Homo sapiens: one gene and its partners. The protein of the gene in region 1 interacts with the protein of each later gene in a pairwise test. Each region holds a gene or a part of one and is shown on either strand. Other genes may lie near its edges.

Evidence for each region.
Region 2: the proteins of NAALADL2 (region 1) and GRM2 interact in binary tests that used the Homo sapiens proteins (3 or more experiments, as listed by UniProt).
Region 3: the proteins of NAALADL2 (region 1) and GPR25 interact in binary tests that used the Homo sapiens proteins (3 or more experiments, as listed by UniProt).

What each region holds. Positions count from the first base shown.
Region 1 is NC_000003.12:174,855,079-174,862,360, reverse strand, and holds the start of NAALADL2 (inactive N-acetylated-alpha-linked acidic dipeptidase-like protein 2), read right to left. Parts: upstream 3,028-7,282; 5' UTR 2,954-3,027; coding exon 2,911-2,953; exon of another isoform or gene 1-2,910. UniProt on the Homo sapiens protein: May be catalytically inactive.
Region 2 is NC_000003.12:51,710,049-51,717,076, reverse strand, and holds part of GRM2 (metabotropic glutamate receptor 2 isoform a precursor), read right to left. Parts: intron 6,379-7,028; exon of another isoform or gene 5,358-6,378; intron 4,605-5,357; coding exon 3,767-4,604; intron 3,114-3,766; coding exon of another isoform or gene 3,094-3,113; exon of another isoform or gene 3,053-3,093; coding exon of another isoform or gene 2,956-3,052; exon of another isoform or gene 2,016-2,955; coding exon 940-2,015; intron 1-939. UniProt on the Homo sapiens protein: Dimeric G protein-coupled receptor which is activated by the excitatory neurotransmitter L-glutamate. Plays critical roles in modulating synaptic transmission and neuronal excitability.
Region 3 is NC_000001.11:200,868,333-200,874,687, forward strand, and holds GPR25 (probable G-protein coupled receptor 25), read left to right. Parts: upstream 1-4,648; 5' UTR 4,649-4,705; coding exon 4,706-5,791; 3' UTR 5,792-5,846; downstream 5,847-6,355. UniProt on the Homo sapiens protein: Orphan receptor.

The sequences.
Region 1 (7,282 bases):
TCCCTTCCAGGAAGGGAGCTGTCACCCTCCCATCTCCCAGCCATGTCCCTCCCTCTACTCCTGTTACAGACTGATGGAGTGATAGAGTGCCACTCAGTGGTGCAGGTGAGTTTGCAGGCATTATGCAAGAAAAATGATCCTTCCCTTCACAAATAACAATGCTTAGAAAGCACTTACCCCTATTCCTTATGCCATATTATTTGTACAATTTTATTCATATTTGCAACGTTTAGAAAAAAATTCTAGCATTCTCTCCTTACCTAGATAATTTATTTTATGAATCCTGAGGACATTATGAACCTTCATGTATGATAGCTTTACACAATTCTCCGCTGGGGTTACCTTGTCATTGGGACTAAAAGAGGAGATTCCTTTTTATGTTTGAAAAGCTAATTAAAATCTGTTCACACAGCTCAAGATAACCTTGGAATAACTTCACTTTTATTCAGGAAAAAAAAAAAATGGGTTCTCAATACTACCAGAAACACTAAATGTTAATGGCATATGGGCTCCACTAACCAGGGCACATGCAACTAACCCCCTGAGAGTATAATTGGGTCAGAGATGTACAGAAAAAGCACTGTGATGAATAATCATTGATAATATCTATGGCTAGCCTTTCAAATTGTAACTAGAGATCATTCAGTGAATCTAGAAAATCTAGATACATGGCCTTAGAAAATCATTATTCAAAGCACTTGATGGAGTTCCAATGATAATCTACATAATATATTATCCTCATAGTCAAAACACGTAAGTCATCCACATGTTTAATATACAAAACATATTATTTTAACATAGTTATTTCCACTAAAGAACATCCGTTTGTAAGTGGAGCTGACAATGAGTATTATTTGAAAGAACCTCAGAATTTTTTATAAATGTCATTAAGTCAAAGGTGAAATTGAACACTAGAAAATAACTTTTCATTCACTTTGGTCATTTTGAAACTCAATTTCAGATTTTGGACAGGGTATCACAGACAACAGAAAAATGTTAAGGCATTCCATTGCCTTTATAATGTAAAGAAATCCAGAAACGAAACCAACAACTGAACTACCATCGGTTCTTTTTAACCCTCACTTGATTAATAGGTGCTCTTAAGAATCTTGATGCAAATATAACTGGTAGGGAAGCACTTCAATACTCCAAGAAGATAGATCTGAAATATTTACAGACCTACCAAGGATACATTTAAACATGAATAAGATCAGAAGAGAATAAATATTTTATTGAAAAGTTTTCAGAGTATACAAACAAAAACTCCCTAGTATATAACTGATTTCACAAGTTTTACCCAACTACAAAAGGCTTAAAGATTAGGCACACTGTTCTTGAACTTAAAGCACACCATTCAAATTATTTACTATATCACTTGTGTTGAATTTTGTGCATGGTTTTCTGATTAATAATTCTGAAAATAATTGTAGTTTTATACATATATATGGATAGGGGAAAGGGAAGGCTATCCTTACACAGTGAAACATATGTATTACCAGAAACATAATATACATAAAAAGCACCAGAGAAAAAGAAAGAAACAACAACAAAATGTATACACAATCTGGGATTCAATTAAAAAAATATTACCCATGATCCTAACACAAAGAGGGATAATGAGTGAAATGGAAAGAGGCCTGGTTACTCCTTAGTTTATTTTGATCGCTGAATACAGACAGGTGATGCACCCACACAGCCTAGAATAGGCTATTTAGGTGGTTGCCAAACAGTAATAAACATTTAATGTAAAATCATTATCATATGCACAATTGGAACAAACTAGAGGCTTCCCATATACTTTCCAATGAAAAATATTAGAGACAAATAAGGAATATGTTATAATCTTGTACATAATACCATTTGTCCATAAGACACATAGAAATAAATGATTCTCATTATGCTAAATGAGCCTTTTACCTTACTGTTTTTCTTCAATAGAATTTATTACATGACTTTTGAAATTAATCTTTTAAATTAAAAATGCTTTATAGTAGCATTTTACACAGTATTTCAAGAAAGATTTTTAGGAAATATACAGAGATAAAAAAAGATACGGGGATTCTTAAGCAGGCTATGTAGAGAAAAGATTAAAGAAATGAAAGAAAAATATAATTTAACTATAAAATAGGTGATATATTTTTAGGATCATGCAGATCTATGTGATCTCATGGTATTCTAGAAGTCTATAACAAATATTGATTAGGCCCAATATCTACTTTCTTTTTCTTCTTTAAGAAATAACTTTTGTTACCCAAAAATGTGAAATGTGAGCGACCTTAAATTTGTTTCGGTGAACAAGCCTCTAACCAGAGATGCCTAGTCAAGCCAATGTCAACAAAGCCAGTCCTTTCAAAGGACAAAGGTATCTGATTAAGCAACACCTGTGAAATAAATCACAGCCTCCTAACTGATAGGCTCGCCCATGTTCCCCTGTTTTCTACCTTTTAAAAAGTGGTTATATTAATTACAGGGAAACTGAGCTGGTAAACTCCAGAGATGGCAAAACTTAATTACCAATAAACACTCCACAGGTAGAGACAAAAATCAAGGTTCTGTTAATGTTGGAAAAGGTCCAACATGAAAATGCACTGGAAGTTGGTTATACCATTTCTCCAACATTATACTGGGGATTAAGGATAAAGCTTTCCATACCCTCCACGGGTCCCCCAAATTTGTGATTCTGTGTTGCCTGAGTCTTTGTAAACAACTGAGAAAACATGCTTCCTCTGAATCAACAATCTCCACCTCTTTTCTCGCTCGCAGAAAACACCTTAAAAACAGGGCCAGGGCACCTGAACATGCATGCAGGGATGCGTGTGTGCATACACAGAAACACACAGACTTTGTAATCAACACTGCTTAAGTTTCTGATTGTGAAAAGTGAAAAGTTCATAGGCTGTTGGTACTTACCTTGCAAAGACGTGTTAGGTAAACTTGCTTCATTCTCTCCCATTTTATTATTTCTTTTTAAAGAGGGCCAAGCAGTTTCAAGTTGTGTCACTTACCCTGCAAGCTTTGTGACCTTCTGACTTTCTACTGTAGTATTGTAACAGTATACTACCTGCTTTCTTCTGTGAATAATTACCATTCTGCTTCCTGAGTTACCTGGGCTTGCAGGACCTGTTTTACTATGAAGTGAGATCATATCTTTTGATCCACTGTATGGCTATTAAAGTGTACTTCACAAAACATTGCTTTGTTTCAGTTTTGATATAAACTTTTAATTCTCTACTTTCACTTTAGTCCAGAAACATATTTATATTTTCCCCTAAAAGAGCATTGATATTACCAGTACACCAAGCTTCACAGAGTTTGGTTTCTTTGTTTTTGAGTGTTTCTAATCTACTTTTCCTACAGAAATCAAATTTAAAGTGTATTACACGACATTTATTTTTTAAACCATAGGGAAATAAGGAACAGCTCAGAGTCAGTTTTGTGCAGCAGTGTGAAGACAAGTTTTGGATTATCTCTAATACTTGCTGTGTGACTGTAAGCAAAGAATATAACTTCTTTGAGACTCAGTTTCCTAAACTATAAAATAGAATAATATCTAGTATGTATGAAGTATGTATGATTAGTACGAAGATTGAAAACACTAATGTATGGCTGTGCTAAACACTGTGAATAATGGACAATAAACAAAAAACAATTTCTAATTTTCCTCTTCCTTTTCCTTCTTCTTCCTTCTCTCCCTCTTGTTCTTCTGATGAGTGGAATGAATGCTGAACTGCAGCATTGATGTCCCAGATCATGTACTGACATCAGTTATGCAACTTATTAACTGAGAGACCTGAAAAAAACTGTTCAACCTAATCCTGAGTTGCCTCAAGGTCCTCATTTGTAAAAGGAGAGTCATGATATTTGCATTGCCTTTTGAATAGAAGCATGGTGAATATTAACTTAGATTAACTGTTGTGACTCAACAAAAATAATTCCCAGCAAACAAGAGCAACAAATTGGAGACGTATCTTTAAATATTCATTTGTATGTGAGAAAGCAAAGATATCACAGAATTAAGGCAATTTATTTAAGCTTTGTCCCCCATAAGGCACCTAGAATAAAAAACAATCTCCACTTTCTTCCCTCTAGAAATCCTTAACTTTGGCTGTAGTTAGACTAGTAAATAAATGAATATAAATATATATTCATATTCATATATATTAATATTTTACAAATTATATATTATATATTTAATATTGTAATAATTACATATTATTATATTCAAATATATAATATATAAAAACATTTTTATTAGTCTGCAGCTAATATATATATATAGGCTGTAGTTACACACATATATATGTATATGAAGCTCAAGCTCCTTTCTTTATAATCCATTGCTTTTTAATTTGAAAAAATCTATATATTATGTGTGCTAGCTTACTAATGTAAAAATTGACTATATAAGTTGTGTAAAGTACAGAAATGTCAAACAACAGTTTTTCTCAAAAGTATTAGAAATAAAGGCAAACATGACATTAAAAATTTCTGATTGCAATTGGGAGTTGTCTCTTTCATTTATTACCTCTCTAGGTCTCAGTTTCTTCTATGAGGGAGCTGGACCATTGAAAACCCATTCTCTCTTTATAATGCCAGGAGCCTCTGATTTAAAATCTGGGTTGTGGTTTGCTCCAGAATAGAATAACCCTTTGCCTATAGCAATTGCATACTGTAATATATATATATACACACCATGCTACATACTTTACCAACAGTAACTTGAAATTGAATGTTTGCCAATAAAACACTGTAATCATCACATTCTTACTTCACTTTAAAAGGACCAACACACATATCAATCCTCACTCATTATGACAAACTTGGAAATATATTTACAGACCTGCCCCAGGCACTGAAATTAGTCAATAACAGTTATAAAGCACCCATTATCTATGAGCTGAATTATAGCATGTGGTAAATTACGATGAAAGTGGAATAGAGAAGTCCTATTCTTAAACGATAACAAAAAATCCATACAAATATAAACACCAGAAAGGTCTTAAGTTCGTAAGTTCACAGAAAGTAACATAAATACTGATTGAGTAGAAAAGAATCAGTTGCAATACTAATAAAGTGCCATGTGCACACATATTTTCTTTCTCCTTCTGGGTCTTTGTGCATGCCTGGAAAATTTCTTCCAGGACGTTTTTTAACATACCTGGTGAGTTTTGCACATGCCTAAAAAACTTCTTCACCTCCCTTTTGCTGAATTCATATGCAGAAATTCTTGTTGAATTCAGTCTGAGTTCAGGTCCCTTCCTTGTGCTCCCAGACACCCCTTAACAATTCTAAACTTTTCATTTCACCATGGCTCTTGTCACATTATATTATAGGTACAGTAGGCCCCCTTAACCTCAGGAGAATACATTCCAAGACCCTTAGTGAATGCTTGAACCACATATAGTACCAAACCCAAATGACATCAATCGGAACACATTTGTGTTCATATCTTCCACCCACAAATTTAATGCCTTTTCCATCTTAACTAAGCAATTATCACACACCGTGGCTGTAACTTTTGCAGTCTGAGGTGTGACAGCTTAAACTAGCACAGATTTCTCTTTCCTTCTTCACAATTTTACAAATAGAAGGTATGTTCTTACAGTAGATCTTGGAAACCTCAATAAAATTTTCTTTCCTAATTAACTCAAAACTTTCATCTTTTCAATTAAAGAAATCACTTTACAGCTTTTCTCTGGCATATCTGAATTGCCAGCCTCATAACTTTTGCATTTTGGGACCATTATTAAGTAACATAAGAGTTGAAAACATGCACCAAATTACCATGAAAGTCCTTCTGATAACTGAGATGGATCCTAAGTGGCTAACAGGCACCTACAGTGTGAATAAACTGGACATACGGATGATTCACATCCTGGGCAGGACAGAATGAGATCTCATCAAGTCACTCAGAATGATGCACAATTTTACACTTATTGATTGTTTCTAAAATTTTCCATTCAATATTTTTGGACCACGATGATCATTGATAACAAATTGTGGAAAGGAAAAGTGTGGATTCAGGAAGACTACTGTACTTCTTAATTATTTCTCAGACTGGGCACAGGAGCTCACGACTGTAATCCCAGCACTTTGGGAGGCTGAGGCAGAAGGATCGCTTAAGCCCAAGAGTTCAAGACCACCCTGGTCAACATAGCATAATCCTGTGTGAACAAACAATACAAAAATTATCTGGGCATGATGGTGTGTGCCTGTAGTACACCTACTCAAGAGACTGAGATGAGAGGATTGCTTGAGTCCAGAAGTTTGAGGCTGCAGTAAGCTATGATCATACCACTGGACTCCAGCCTGAGTGACAGACTGAGAACCTGTCTCTCTCTCTTACTTCTCTCTCTCATATATATATATATATATATATACACACACACACACACATACACATATATTCATATCTATGTGTATATATATTCATATCTATGTGTATATATATTCATATCTATGTGTATATATATTCATATGTATGTATATATACATATATACACATATATACATATCTTTCATATATATGAGACATATACATGTGTGTGTGTGTGTGTGTGTGTGTGTGTGTGTGTGTGTGTGTGTATTTCTCTCCTGACACTCTGTTATGCCAAAGACACTTTAAAAGTAGTCATCAAGTTCCTGGCACCTAGCCCAGTTCCTAGCACACATTGAGCCTGCAATGAATTTTGTGAAAATGAATAAAATTACCATCATCAGAAAGGGTGAATAAAAGAGTCTCAAAGAAAACAAAGACATAGATTAGCAAAGAAGATGATAGAAAATTTTCAGTTGGGAAAAGTAACAAATTAAAGCTTAAAAGCGAAAAGTGATGAGGGAAAGTAGGGAGTTTTAACTGCAAGAGCAAAACATTAAGAGTTAGAAGGATATAAGAAATGATGGTAATTATGAGAATTTCCAAAATAAAAGTCAAAACCAGGATAAGAAATGAAAGAGAATAAGAAGTTAATACACCATAGTCATGCACTGAATAATGATGTTTCAATCAATGGTGGACTGAATAAACACAGGTGGTCTCAAAAGATTATAACGAAGCCAAAATTTTCCTATCGCCTAGGGATGTCATGGCTGTCATAATGTCATAGCTGTCATAACATCATAGCTGTCAAAATGTCTTGCATAAGACATTACTCACATGTTTTGTGTTGATGCTGATATAAAAATAGCTACTATGCTGCCACTCATGTAAAAGTATAGCATAGGCCGGGCACAGTGACTCACGCCTGTAATCCTAGCACTTTGGGAGGCCAAGGCGGGCGGA
Region 2 (7,028 bases), about 120 Mb from region 1:
TGCCTGTGATTGGCATGCAAATGCAAATCATATGCAAATGCAGGCTGAGTCAGAGCAGAATCCCTCCCCAGCCCTGGCCTCTACCACCCAAGCAGGTGGCCCAGCAGGTGCAAGCAGAGCAGCCAAGCCCAGCGGTCCCTGGCCCCCAGCACTGTGCCACCACACCTCTGTCCTGGGGAAGGGGCCTTTGCCGGGGCTTTCGCCTCAATTTTTCTGCAGTTCAGACCCTGCTCTGCACTCCCAAGCTGAGTGACCTTGGGCAAGGGATTGAACCTCCCTGAGTCTCTGTTTCTTCATCTGTAAAACGGGAGAGCCATGGAGCTTACTCAAGTTATGAAGATTAACCAAGATAATCTTCTTACTCAGAACATAGCTCATCTGTCACCTCCTCAGAGAGGGCTTCCCTGACCACCCTATCTGAAGCAGCCATTGCCCCTTGGAGCTGGGGAGACCCATTGAGACACAGTGCCAGTTGGAACCAAATTTGCTCAGAAGCCACCAACTGGGGAACAATTTTCACCTGCTTTAGCTTTTCTCAACTCTATACCCTGGATCTCCTCCCCTACCCACCTTGCTTCATCTTTCCTGCCTTCCCTGGCTTCATCTCTCAACCCCTTCTGCAGATGACCCCTCAGTGGAGCAGGGCAGAACCCTGTCCATTTGAACATATTTCTGCACCCCCATCACCTTCCAGGATAGGGGATGACATTCAAGTCCTGAAATCTCAGCTCTCTCTAACTCGAGTTCCCCACCTCCCTGGCCATTTCCCTAGGTCCTATTCAGCCCTCCCACCTTCCCCTTGGGATCCACACAAGCTGTGGTCCCCTGAGTGGGCATTATCCTCTTGGAACCCCAGAGCTACCAGTAGATTAAATAAGATACCAGGAAACAGAGGGTCTGGTGTCCCATCTCCCCCGACCTCTGTGGCAGGTAGCTCACCCGGTAGTCACTGGAGGTGACATAGAAGATGGGCAGGAATGCCAGCCAGATGATGCAGGTGGTGTACATGGTGAAGCCAATGAACTTGGCCTCGTTGAAGTTTTCGGGGCACTTGCGAGTCTTGAAGGCATAAAGCGTGCAGAGCGCGATGAGGAGCACATTGTAGGCCAGCGAGCCCAACATACTTGCATCGCGGTGGTTGCAGCGCAGTGTCACCACCTCCCGCCGTTCGGGGGCTGTCTCCTTGCCTGTGCCCGGTGCCTCCACCACCAGCCAGGCGACCACGATGAGCAGCTGGCCCGAGATAAGTGCCAGGCAGATGGCCACCTGTGAGGCAGGACTGATGAAGCGTGGCCGCTGGGCACCCTCCCGGGCCCCACCGAAGATGCGTGCAATGCGGTTGGTCTTGGTGAGCAGGGCTGAGTAGCAGACAGAGAAGGCAGTGCCCAAACCAAGACGCCGTAAGGTACACACTGCCGTGGATGGCTTGGCAATGAAGATGAAGGTCATGCAGTAGCAGAGGAAGACACCACCCAGCAGGATGTAGCAGAGCTCCCGACCTGAGGCCTTGACCACTGGTGTGGCATTGTGCCGCACAAAGACACCCAGCACAAAGAGGGTGGCCAGGGCACCGAGGCAGGCGATGGTGACAGGTCCCACAGCCCAGGCATCGCCCCAGCGGATGTACTCCTGGGGCAGTTCGAAGCAGCCAGTCAGGCTGGCATTGGGCCAGTAGCCCAGGCCACAATCAGCGCAAGTGAATTCGTCCAATCGGTACTCATAGGGCTGGCACGGAATGCAGAGCCAGCAGCAGACTTCGCCCGGCTGCACACTCTTCACCTCATTCTGGAGGCAGGGCTCACTGCAGCGAGAGGCGGGCAGGGGGCCGGCTGAGGGTGAGGCCCATGGGATGAGGCTGGTGTCCAGAGTCAAGCCTTCTGCCCAGTAGCCCACCTTCTGGTAGCGATAGCGCCCACTGCCTGCACGCAGATAGGTGAAGATGTTGTAGCGGCCAATACCATCACCAAAGCGGTCAAAGCGGACCTCATTGTGGGTGTCAGCTGGGCGAAAGGGGGCTAGGATGGGGGAGGGAAGGAAGAGAAGGTTGGACTAGTGTGTTACCCTGATGTGACCTCAACATTCACCCTAACATGGAACCCAAATGCCAGAGCTAAGACCACCATTAGCCCTTCCAATCCTTAACCCAATACTAAATCCTGCCTTGACCCCAATCATTTTTCTAAATGAGAGATGACAACAAAGTCTTACTCCTAAACTCCAACATCAAACCCCAACCCTAAATGCCAAATGTAATCCCAGCCTTAAAGCCCAGACATCTCCAAAAACCTAATGCCCACATCAATCCCCAACCATGACTCCCCAAATTCAACTTTAGTACTATCCAACACTTTCCAACCCAGGCTCCAAATCCCAACTTCATCGAAACATACACTACAGCCCTCTCCCCAAACTCAATGCTAAGGCTAAACCCAGTCTCAGCTCCAATCCTGTCCCCACTAATCCTAACAACAACCCCAGCTCCAGCACCCCTAGTCCTAACAGTCATCCTGGTGCAAACTGAATCCCAACCTCACTGGTCACCTGCAACCACTGCCATTCACCAGAATGTGGTCAGTGGCTGGAAAATCACTTCCTCTCTCCACCCCCACTTCATCCCCTGTAAACCTCACATCTCCCAGCCAGGCTCTAGCCAGGATTTACAGCCATCCCTGGCCCCAGTGAGAAATCAGGGTTCAAGAAAGCAGAAGACATGCTTAAGGCCCCATGAGTGAATAGTGCAGCCTAGATTCAAACCCAGGTCCCCTCAAGCACCTACTCTTTCTACTCAGCCTAAAAGTTCTCAAAATCCAACTCTAGCCCTACCATAAATTCCACCCAAGCCAAACATGCTGAATTTAGCCTTGCTCTAACATCAACCAAATCGGACCCCAGATTCCAACCCTAACCCCTACACTGATTGTAGCTAACTCTGAATGTCAGTTCTATTGGAAGTACTCTTCATCTTAACCCTGGGCCAGGGCTTCCAAGCTTTGTCTCCCACTGTTCCCACGGTGATTCTTCCTGAAGCATAGTGATGATCTGCAGCAGTCATTTCTCTTAAAGCTGGCACTCTTATTAAAATAACTTTTGATTTCAGGAGACTTTCAGGTCACCTTGAGTGGAAAATCAAGATTAGGAATAGAAATTTTCCCTGAAGCTAGGAGCAGTGCCACATGCCTGTCATCCTAGCTACTCTGGAGACTGAGGCAGAAGGATCGCTTGAGCCCAGGAGTTGGAGGCTGTATTGTGCCTGTGAATAACCACTGCACTCCAGCCTACAAAATATAGTGAGACCCCATCTAAGAAAAGAAAGAAAGAAAGAAAGAAAGAAAAAAGAAAGAAAAGAAAAAAGAAAGACAGAAAGACATTTTCCGTGAATATAGAGCGTCATCCTGATGCTCACCCTCAAGCCAGACTGATTCTAACTCTTGGTGCTGCCTGAGAATGGGCTTGAGGTCTCCTGGTCTCCACCTTTGGCAAGATAAGGAGACAGAAGACAGTGGGCAAGGCCCAAGGAGGAGCCAGAGACCCTCAAAATGGCGGGACCAGGCCAGAGGTCTACTCTCTGGAAGAAAGTGGAACCTCAGCCGTAGCTTCAGTTGGAGTCCTCTCTGCCTAGCATCCTTGCCCTTGCTCTGACGCCACCCCAGGTGAGTCCTTTACTTTCACTCTACTGTTTCCTTAGCAAAGGAATGGAAGCTGAAGTTCTGCTTCCCCTCATCCTCTGACAGCCAGCAGGCCAATGGACACTGGCCAACACCATTACCATCAAACTTGACGTTGAGCACAAAGTCCTTGTAGAGGCGGCGCCCGTTAACTGGCCGCATCGCGTCACAGAGCCGGGTGGTGTTGGGGCAGAGGGCACGGTGCATGTTGTGGAGCGCATGGGCCATGGCGTACACTGCATTGACCACAAACATGATCTTGGACTCCTGCTCAAAGGGCACAGCCCGGAGAGAGTGGGCTGCGCAGTCTCGCTGCCGGAAGCTGCAGCGGAACCTCTGCTCCCAGAATTCACGGAACCAGGGGTTCCGGCTGTTGTTCCAAGGGTCCAGGCTCTGGAAGTAGGAGGCAAAGTCACTGATGGGGTAGGAGGCCAGCTCGATGGTGATAGCACCCTCAGCAGCCCCCTCACTGCCTGCCACCACACTCTCCAGGGCCCCCCAACCATCACTGGCCACCCAGGTGAAGCTGGCATTGAGGCGCTGGCTGGCAGCAAGCAGCTCCCGGGCATCCTCAGAACGGGTGAACAGGACAGCCACGCGGGCACTGGGCTTCTGCAGCAGGGCTCGCACCACACCCTCAAAGGCCGCGCGGCTCATGGCACGGCCCACTTTCTCCGAGGTGGCCACACAGATGTTGCGGGCACGAGCCTCTAGCTCAAAGGCCTCAATGCCTGTCTCGCCATAGTCGCCCTCAGACGCCACAGTGGACACATAGGTCCAGTTGAAGAAGCGGAGAATCTCAGCCATGGCCTTGGCTTGGAAGAAGTCAGGAGGCACTGTGCGGGCAAAGTAGTCATAGCGGGACTTGTCACTCAGCTTGGCACTGGTAGAGGCGTAGCTAATCTGTGGGATCTGAAATAGCCTCAAGAGGTTGGCCACCTGGGGGAGGAGTAGAGAAGGCAAAGATCAGCGGTCAGATCAAACACTAGAGACAGGTGCATCCCCCACAGCTAGCAGGTCTTGGTGTCAAGTGTCCACAAGGTCAGGCCTAAAGGCTCCCTCTCTAAAGCCCTGCATCCTGACTTGACAGTCTTCCCTCTGGGCTAGGGAGTTTTTTTATCTCTTTCCAAGGGCTGAGAGAGAGAAGACCCAGGGTGGAGACACCAGGGTCATGAGCCACACCTGATCCCCTCTGCCATCCCCTTTTAGACACATGGCAGGGGGGCCAAGGAAGGCCTGGGTGGAGGGAGGTTGGCACCTGGCTACACTGGGGCAGAGGGAGGCATGAGATGGCATCTGGCTACTCAGGGCTCTTCGGCTCTCTACTTATTTGAGGGTAGGTGGCCCTTCCCCTGAATCAATCTGATGGAATGATACAGAAAGAAGGAAAAGTTTCCCCTAGGAAGAAAGACACAGATCCCAGGGTCCGGTGGCCCTAATAGGCCAAGGCTTGGTCTCCATTGAATGCCTGAGTCTTAAACGTTCTACCACTGGCTGCCTGGCACCCCATCTCCCACCCTCAGGTCCCACAGGAGTGGGATCCGGCCAAGGGCCAGGTAGAGGGTGGGTAGGTGAAAGCAGAGCATGGCCCAGATTCTACAGCAGAGGGGTGAGTCTTGTGTTGCAACTGGATACAGGCTATGGCTCTGACAGTCTAGGGCTCAATGTCTCCTCCCCTCCCACACATTTTACCTTTGGGCCCCTGGAGTTGGCAAATCTCCCTGAGCCTCAGTTTCACATTCCTGCCCTACAAGGCTGCTGAGAGGATAAAAACGATAATGCATGGGAGGCCACAGTGCCTGGCAAAGGGAAGATGATAGGGACATGGGCAAGAGAGAAGGAGCAGCCATGAGGGGGAATATTAACAGGCAGGTGCAGCCTACGGATGACAGGCTAGCCTCGTGTTGATCAGGACGAGGGAGAAGCAGACCACTGCTGAGGCGTGGGCCCTGATCCAGGAGGCAGGCAGCTTGGGATGGCAAGGAGGTAACTGGACTTCTGGAGATAAATGCATGAGCCCTAAGGAGGACTGTGGAGAAAACTTCAGCAGAGGCCCTGGAAGACAGCAGCAGGTAGGAGGCCGCCCACTCATCCCTGCCCCAACCCGGGGCTGCAGAAATAGATGCTAGCACAGCCACATCTTCCCAGGCTGCTGCCTAGCCACCTCCAGTGACTGGGACTAGCAGGACAGCTGCCTAGCCACCTCCAGTGACTGAGACTAGCATGACAGCTGCCTAGCCACCTCCAGTGTCTGGGATTAGCAGGACAGATAATCCACTCCCAGCAGTGGATGGAGTGGCCAGGCCTCCCCGACTTCAGGCCGGTAGCTGACTCCAGGGTTCTCTGATTTCTGCTTCTGCTCCATTTCTCCTGAACAACTGTTCTAGGACAGGGGGCCTGGCCCTCTCCATCTCGGCAATGCCCTCAGCCACTCTCCGAAAGGAAGCTGAGGCCAAGCCAAGGCCTACCTTATGTCCCCCAGCCCTGATTCTAGCTCCAGCCGCATCTTCCAGCAGCCTGTGCTGGGCACTTGGCAAGCGGGAATCTGGGTGAGAGGTAGGACCCAGTCAGAGATGGGAGGATCGCAGCTGGGCACAGCCCTGGGAGCAGCAGAGGGGTGTCAGCAGGGCCAGCAGCCTCTGCTGAAGCTGAGCCACAGAGCACCCTCTGCTGGTCCCTGTGGGAGAGTAGGAGGCTGAGGGCAGGGGAGCTGCCTCCCCACCCTTCCCACCCCCTCAAATCCTGTGCCCCCTGAAGACTCTCTGGTGCCCTCCCCCGACACATATTCTGTTTATCTTCCTTCTGACTCCCCTACCCTGATTCTCTCCTCTGGCCACTCCTGGCTTCTATCTGGCCACCCCTCTCCAATCCAGGCAGAGATGATCTGACAAGTCAGGAGCCCCTTGGCCGAGAGCCGATTTCACAGTTCCCCTCCACCACTGCCTTGAATGTGGCCCACCTCTCTCTGAGCCTTCGTTTCCTCATCTATAAAATGGGTTAAAAATAATAGCAGCTAATATCAACGGTGCCCTTATGACTTGCCGGGCCCCTGATACATACTATGCATCTATCAACTCATTAAATTTCCATGGCAAACCTCAAAGTAGAAAGTGTTGTGGGCCGGGCACAGTGGCTCATGCCTATAATCCCAGCACTTTGGGAGGCCGAGGCGGGTGGATCACCTGAAGTCGGGAGTTTGAGACCAGCCTGACCAACGTGGTGAGGTCAGGCTCGTCTCTACTAAAAATACAAAAATTAGCCGGGCATGGTGGCAGGCGCCTGTAATCCCAGCTACTTGGGAGGCTGAGGCAGGAGAATCACTTAAACCCGGGAGGCAGAGATTGCAGTGGGCTGAGATCTCAC
Region 3 (6,355 bases), on another chromosome or scaffold:
CTAATAGCAACAAATTTGACTATATGAAAATGTCAAACTAAAATAAATAATAGCTAAGAAAAGAATTTGGAAAAATATTTGAATCAAGTGGAATAAATCATGACTCATCCTAAATATATAGTTTGTACAAATTAATAAGAAATACATAGATTATAATAAATATGTGAAGGACATGATTAGAATGGTTCACTTAGGAAATAAATAGATTTTCCATCTTATTTATAAACAAGTGCAAATTGAAATGAGGTACCATTTTACCTCACTGCCTATTACAATGGAAAATATATGTTACCGATGAACATCTCTAAGAAGACTGTGTTGAACCTTATACTCTCATACAATGCCAGTGACATTCTAAACTGCTAATCACTGTAAACATTTGTATCAAGCAATAAAAATTTTCATTGCCTTTGTTACAAAATTTGTATTTATAACGTGTTTTACAACATATTTATATAAATGTTATATTTATACATATTTATATAAATATGTTATATTTGTACATATTTATATGTATATAAATACATATTTATATGTACTTATACAAGAGCATTTATGTTATAAAAACAATATAAAAAAGTCATAAGTGCAATTATTCATTACAAATTTCTATAACAGTTAAAAATACTAGAAACATCCTAAATATCCATATTTAAGGGTTTAGAAAATTAAGCAACATAGACTCATGTGGATTTATATGATATTAATTGAGAATACTGTGTACACTCTAATTACAGATACGACTTTGAAACACCTGTGTAAAAAATGTGAAGAATATCTGAAATGGAATATTTAAAAATAGAAAATCTAAAAATAATGAGATTACAAATAAATACTTTTGAAAATGTCCTTCACTGGCTAAGTTTGGTTGTGTAGGGGTAGCAGGTCCAAGATGACGACTACTTCTTTATTCTGTAATGTATTAGATGGCTTTTATGATTAAACATAAAAAGGCAAATACAATTTACTTAAAATGTTAAGATTCTTTGTACAGAAAAATTAAAATTAGAAAAAATAAGTTATAAGAACTTAAATATAACCTGTAAAGGGGCAGAAATAAACCTACTCTCGAAAACAATTTAGCCCGAAGCATTGGATATTTATTTAAAGTATCTCCTCTGTTTTCAGGCTTGTGCTAATCACCCTGATGAGTAGAAAGAAGCTCCCCCTCGCCCTGAGAAGTTCATAATCCCATGGGCAAGGCAAGACGGAGCCACGTAACAGTTGCCCTGGCTCCAGCAGTGCAGAGAGAGGAAGTCCTCTTAGGGATGGAGGTTAGAGAAGGCTCCCAGGGGTGGGATGGAGGAAGAGGGAAGACTTCTTCTGCTTTGTCCACACCTGTTAGAGAGCATGGCCAGGATTCCCAGCCTGTAAGGGTGAGTGTTTCTATTAGTTGACTTGTGTGTAATCCTGTGGGGAGTCCTCCTGAAGGGTGAAAGAGCAGTCTTGTGAAGTTGGCCTTGGTCACTGAAACCGGGCTGGGCACCCCAGGAGACCGGGCCTAAGGCAGTGTCCCTGGCTCTGACCTTTGCTGTTTCTTCTCATCCAGACAAGTTCAGTAAGGCCCATGGACAGCACCCAGGCCTCAGCAGAGAAAATTCAGCATATGCTCTGGGCCACAGACTTCCCTTGGGTATGAGATGATGGCCCAGGAAGCAAGTAGCTCTGTGATTTTTAAAATAACCTACTTCTACTTCCCCTCAACCCCCTTCCTATATTCCCCTCTTGGTCTGCTTGCCCCATTCTTTGTTTTCACCCGGCGGCTTCTCTGCTGTTCATCTCTAGCTTTCAGGATCACTCACACTCTCTGAGCCCGCAGACTGAGGTGTGCCTGAAGGGGTGAAGTCCAGCAACACTGGGTCTGTCTCTGATGGTCTCTGGGCTCTGGCAGGCAAGCACTGCCCCTGCTAGCCTTCTAGGGGAGGAGGCTGCAGCCCCCTACTCCACCCCGGATGTGGGCACCGCTCACCAGCAACCACATGCTCAGACATTAGAAAAGCGGCTCTGGGGTGGGTCTTCAGGGGAAAACCAAGCCCGGAGGCTGAAAAGCCAGTGAAGGGAAGGTCCAGACCATTCATTCCCTAGGCTCTTCTCTTCCCTGCCCATCTTGTAATTGGTGTGGGAGAAATTCTTGACAGGAGCAGCCTAAACACTGCATACCCAACCCTCTGTGAGCTCTAGGACCATTTTCTTTTTGAGATGGAGTCTCGCTCTTTCACCCAGGCTGGAGTGCAGTGGCTTGATCTCAGCTCACTGCAACCTTTGCTCCTGGGTTCAAGCGATTCTCCCACCTCAGCCTCCTGAGTAGCTGGGACTTGCGCGTACCGTGCCCGGCTAATTTTTGCATTTTTAGTAGAGACAGGGTTTCACCATGTTGGCCAGGCTGGTCTCGAGCTCCTGACTTGAAGTGATCTACCCACCTCGGCCTCCCAAAGTGCTGGGATTAGATGTGAGCCACTGCGCCCGGCCTCTAAGACCATTTTCCAAATCCTTCCTGGGGATCTCCGTGTGCCAGAGGGACCCTGAGCGAGGGTGACCTTATGTCCCAGTTTGCCCAAAATAGTCCTGGTTTACGGCCCAGGTTAATTCTGATAGTGCCCCTTTCACTCTCAGAAACATCCTGGTTAGATGATAAATTATTTCATGACCCCACTTCAACATCAAACTGAACACATACACACATGTGCCTCTCTGTGTTCTTGGCAGTTAAGGGGACAGCGTCCATATAGTCCCTAAGCAGAGAAACCCCAGGCTTATCTTTGACTCCTCTTTGTGAGACCTATGATGTTACAATTATCTCTTGAATATACCCTCCCATTTCTGTCCCCACTGCTCATGATCTATTTCAGACACAAATAATTACAACCTACTATGGGGTCTCCCTGGCTTGAGCCTCTCCCTTCTCCATAGTTCTGCCAGCGATCTTTTCAAAACACAGATCGATGCCTCCTGGCTCCCCATGACCTATAGATTGAAATCCAAATCCCCTCATGATCCTTTCCTGCTTCATCTCCTGCCCCCACCTTCCTACCCTGGGCTCTGGCAGACTGCTTGTCCCCTGAAAAGCCCACATTCCTACTCATTTTGGTATACTTGTTCCCTTTACTCCCTCCTCCGAGTCTGACCCTTTCTTCTCTTTTCTGCTGCTCTTATTTGACTTTCAGCTCCTTCCTGGGACTGATCTCAAGTGTCATCTCCTCGAAGGCCTTTTCTGATTCAGCCCTCCCGTCAAAAATAATCACTCCCCCTCCACTAAACCCTAAGAGGGCTTGGTTTTTAACATTTACTACAATTTGGCCCCTGCATAAGATTACATAAGATTCTGCTTATGTAACCATCTCTCCTGCCTATGCAACAAACTGCGAAGGCCAAGAATGGCATCTCTTGCAGTGCCTGAAACAGTGCCTGCTTCATGGAGGAGTTCATTGTTAACAAGTCTTAATCGAACAAAATTGATAATCCACCTCAAATTTTCCACACCGGGTTGCCCGGCACATCAGCCACTCATACCTGGGAACACTGGGGACAGACTCAGAGGGCACTGTGACATCAGTTCTACCACAATATCTTGTGGAAGGGATATCTGCTAAGAAGAATTCAGATGTAAGTGGCTGCATGCCTCCTTCAGGAGAAAGAGCAAGCTTTCCCTCACCCATCCTCTCCTCCTTAGGTCCCACTGCCTCCTCAGGGTCAGACTTCATTCCCCCTCGTCTTTATGAATCCTCCCCTTACTCTCAGTTTCTCAGTTCAGAAGGGATCTTGCTGCCTCCAAGCTCCTGACTCATAATTTAGGACAACTAATCTGGTGTTTCATTAGGTGTCATCTTTTGAACTGAGCTTACATCTGTGTCTGGCTTGACAGGTTTTTTAGGATAGGAGAAGACAGGGAAGAGGCAGATGTGAATCCCAGGTTTCACCCCTTTCCAGCAGGATGATCTGACTACACCCCTTCCTCGCTGCCTTAAAACCCTTTCGCGTGGCTTCATGAGGACCTGACTGGGTCAGAGAAGCCACTCATAGGGTGAAGACATGAGCCCCACATCTCAGGACGCTAACAACTGCTTGACTGCCCAGGGCGGGCTCCCCCACCCACCCAGATCTGCTGTGTCCCGGCAGTGGAGTCTTTCCTAGGGAACAGGTGGATTTGGGGTGGGGCGTGCCTTAGGCCCCATACTCATAAAATCCCGGGGCTCTGTCTTCTCACCTCTAAAACAGAGAAGACAGCAGCCGGTGGGTGCAGGTGGGAAGGGGTGAAGTGGAGGCTGAGAAGAGGTTAGGGCTCTCGGGCACCCACCACCTCTTGCAACGCGACCCTGAGACAGTGGGGCAAGTATCCCGATTTCACGAACAAAGAAACTGAGCAACTAATAGAGGAATGGGCCACGCTCCTACTGGGAGGCCGGGCAGGTCTCCCAGCCCTGAAGACTTTTCCTCCCAAGATTTAGATGTGAAGCCCCTTTTGCCTGTCCCTGCCCTTACCCCTCGGGTCAGCCCCAAATCGGAGGCCACCATCTCTCTCACAGAAGCCTGCCCCTCCCACCCCATCCCCTCCTCCCTCCCCTCTTTCCTGCCCACCCATTTGCCTCCGGCTTGGGTGGCAGGAAGGGAGGTGCAGGGCCGGGCGTGAAGAGCAAACCCCCTCCTGCTCAGAGCTGCTGCCGCCTGCGCCCAGGGCTGCACTCCGCGCAGGCCTCATAGCCAGGCCATGGCCCCCACAGAGCCCTGGAGCCCCAGCCCGGGGTCAGCGCCCTGGGACTACTCGGGGTTGGACGGCCTGGAGGAGCTGGAGCTGTGTCCGGCCGGGGACCTGCCCTACGGCTACGTCTACATCCCCGCGCTCTACCTGGCGGCCTTCGCCGTGGGCCTGCTGGGCAACGCCTTTGTGGTGTGGCTGCTGGCCGGGCGGCGGGGCCCGCGGCGGCTGGTGGATACCTTCGTGCTGCACCTGGCGGCAGCTGACCTGGGCTTCGTGCTCACGCTGCCGCTGTGGGCCGCGGCGGCGGCGCTAGGCGGCCGCTGGCCGTTCGGCGATGGCCTCTGCAAGCTCAGCAGCTTCGCGCTGGCGGGCACGCGCTGCGCGGGCGCGCTGCTGCTGGCGGGCATGAGCGTGGACCGCTACCTGGCCGTGGTGAAGCTGCTCGAGGCGAGGCCACTGCGCACCCCGCGCTGCGCGCTGGCCTCGTGCTGCGGCGTCTGGGCCGTGGCGCTGCTGGCCGGCCTGCCCTCCCTGGTCTACCGGGGGTTGCAGCCCCTGCCTGGGGGCCAGGACAGCCAGTGCGGCGAGGAGCCCTCCCACGCCTTCCAGGGCCTCAGCTTGCTGCTGCTGCTGCTGACCTTCGTGCTGCCCCTGGTCGTCACCCTCTTCTGCTACTGCCGCATCTCGCGCCGCCTGCGACGGCCGCCGCACGTGGGTCGGGCCCGGAGGAACTCGCTGCGCATCATCTTCGCCATCGAGAGCACGTTTGTGGGCTCCTGGCTGCCCTTCAGCGCCCTGCGGGCCGTCTTCCACCTGGCGCGTCTGGGGGCGCTGCCGCTGCCGTGCCCCCTGCTGCTGGCGCTGCGCTGGGGCCTCACCATTGCCACCTGCCTGGCCTTCGTCAACAGCTGCGCCAACCCGCTCATCTACCTCCTGCTGGACCGCTCATTCCGAGCCCGGGCGCTGGACGGGGCCTGCGGGCGCACCGGCCGCCTGGCGCGAAGGATCAGCTCAGCCTCCTCGCTCTCCAGGGACGACAGTTCCGTGTTCCGTTGCCGGGCCCAGGCCGCGAACACTGCCTCGGCCTCCTGGTAGCTGCCCCGGGCCGCTGGAGGTGGGCGGCAGCGGAGCATCGAGAGGAGGCCAGAGGTCCCGGAGGGGACTGAGCTCCCCAGACGCGCCTGTTCTGGCGGCAGCAAGCTGCTCGGGCCGGCATCGCATTTCCTCGCGCGCTGCCTGGACTCCCAAGGCCTCCTCCATCGGTTTCCCCGGAACCTCAGAACAATTGAACTCCCCTAAACCAGGCTCCTGTGACTAGCTGTTCCCTCTCAGCCTGCAGGGTACCTGAGCTAATTTTGTCCAGTCCAAGATAGGTGCTATGAGATGTAGCAGACAGCAACTCGGAGACCCGCAGATTCACCAAGTAGACAGAAGGGAAGTGGGTTTCCTTCTCTGTCCCATCGGGAAGAGAACCCACCAGAATATCTAACCCAGACCCCCAAATGCCATTCTGATTTCTGGCTGTGCTTTCTCCCGTCTCCCACAATAGCCGTTGCTTTCAGAGAAATACCTTCTCCAAGTCAGACCCCCTGCCCTTCTCACTCACAAAACCCTTGCATTGAATCTGGTGACACTTCTCCCCCTGTGAAGCGGCAGGAC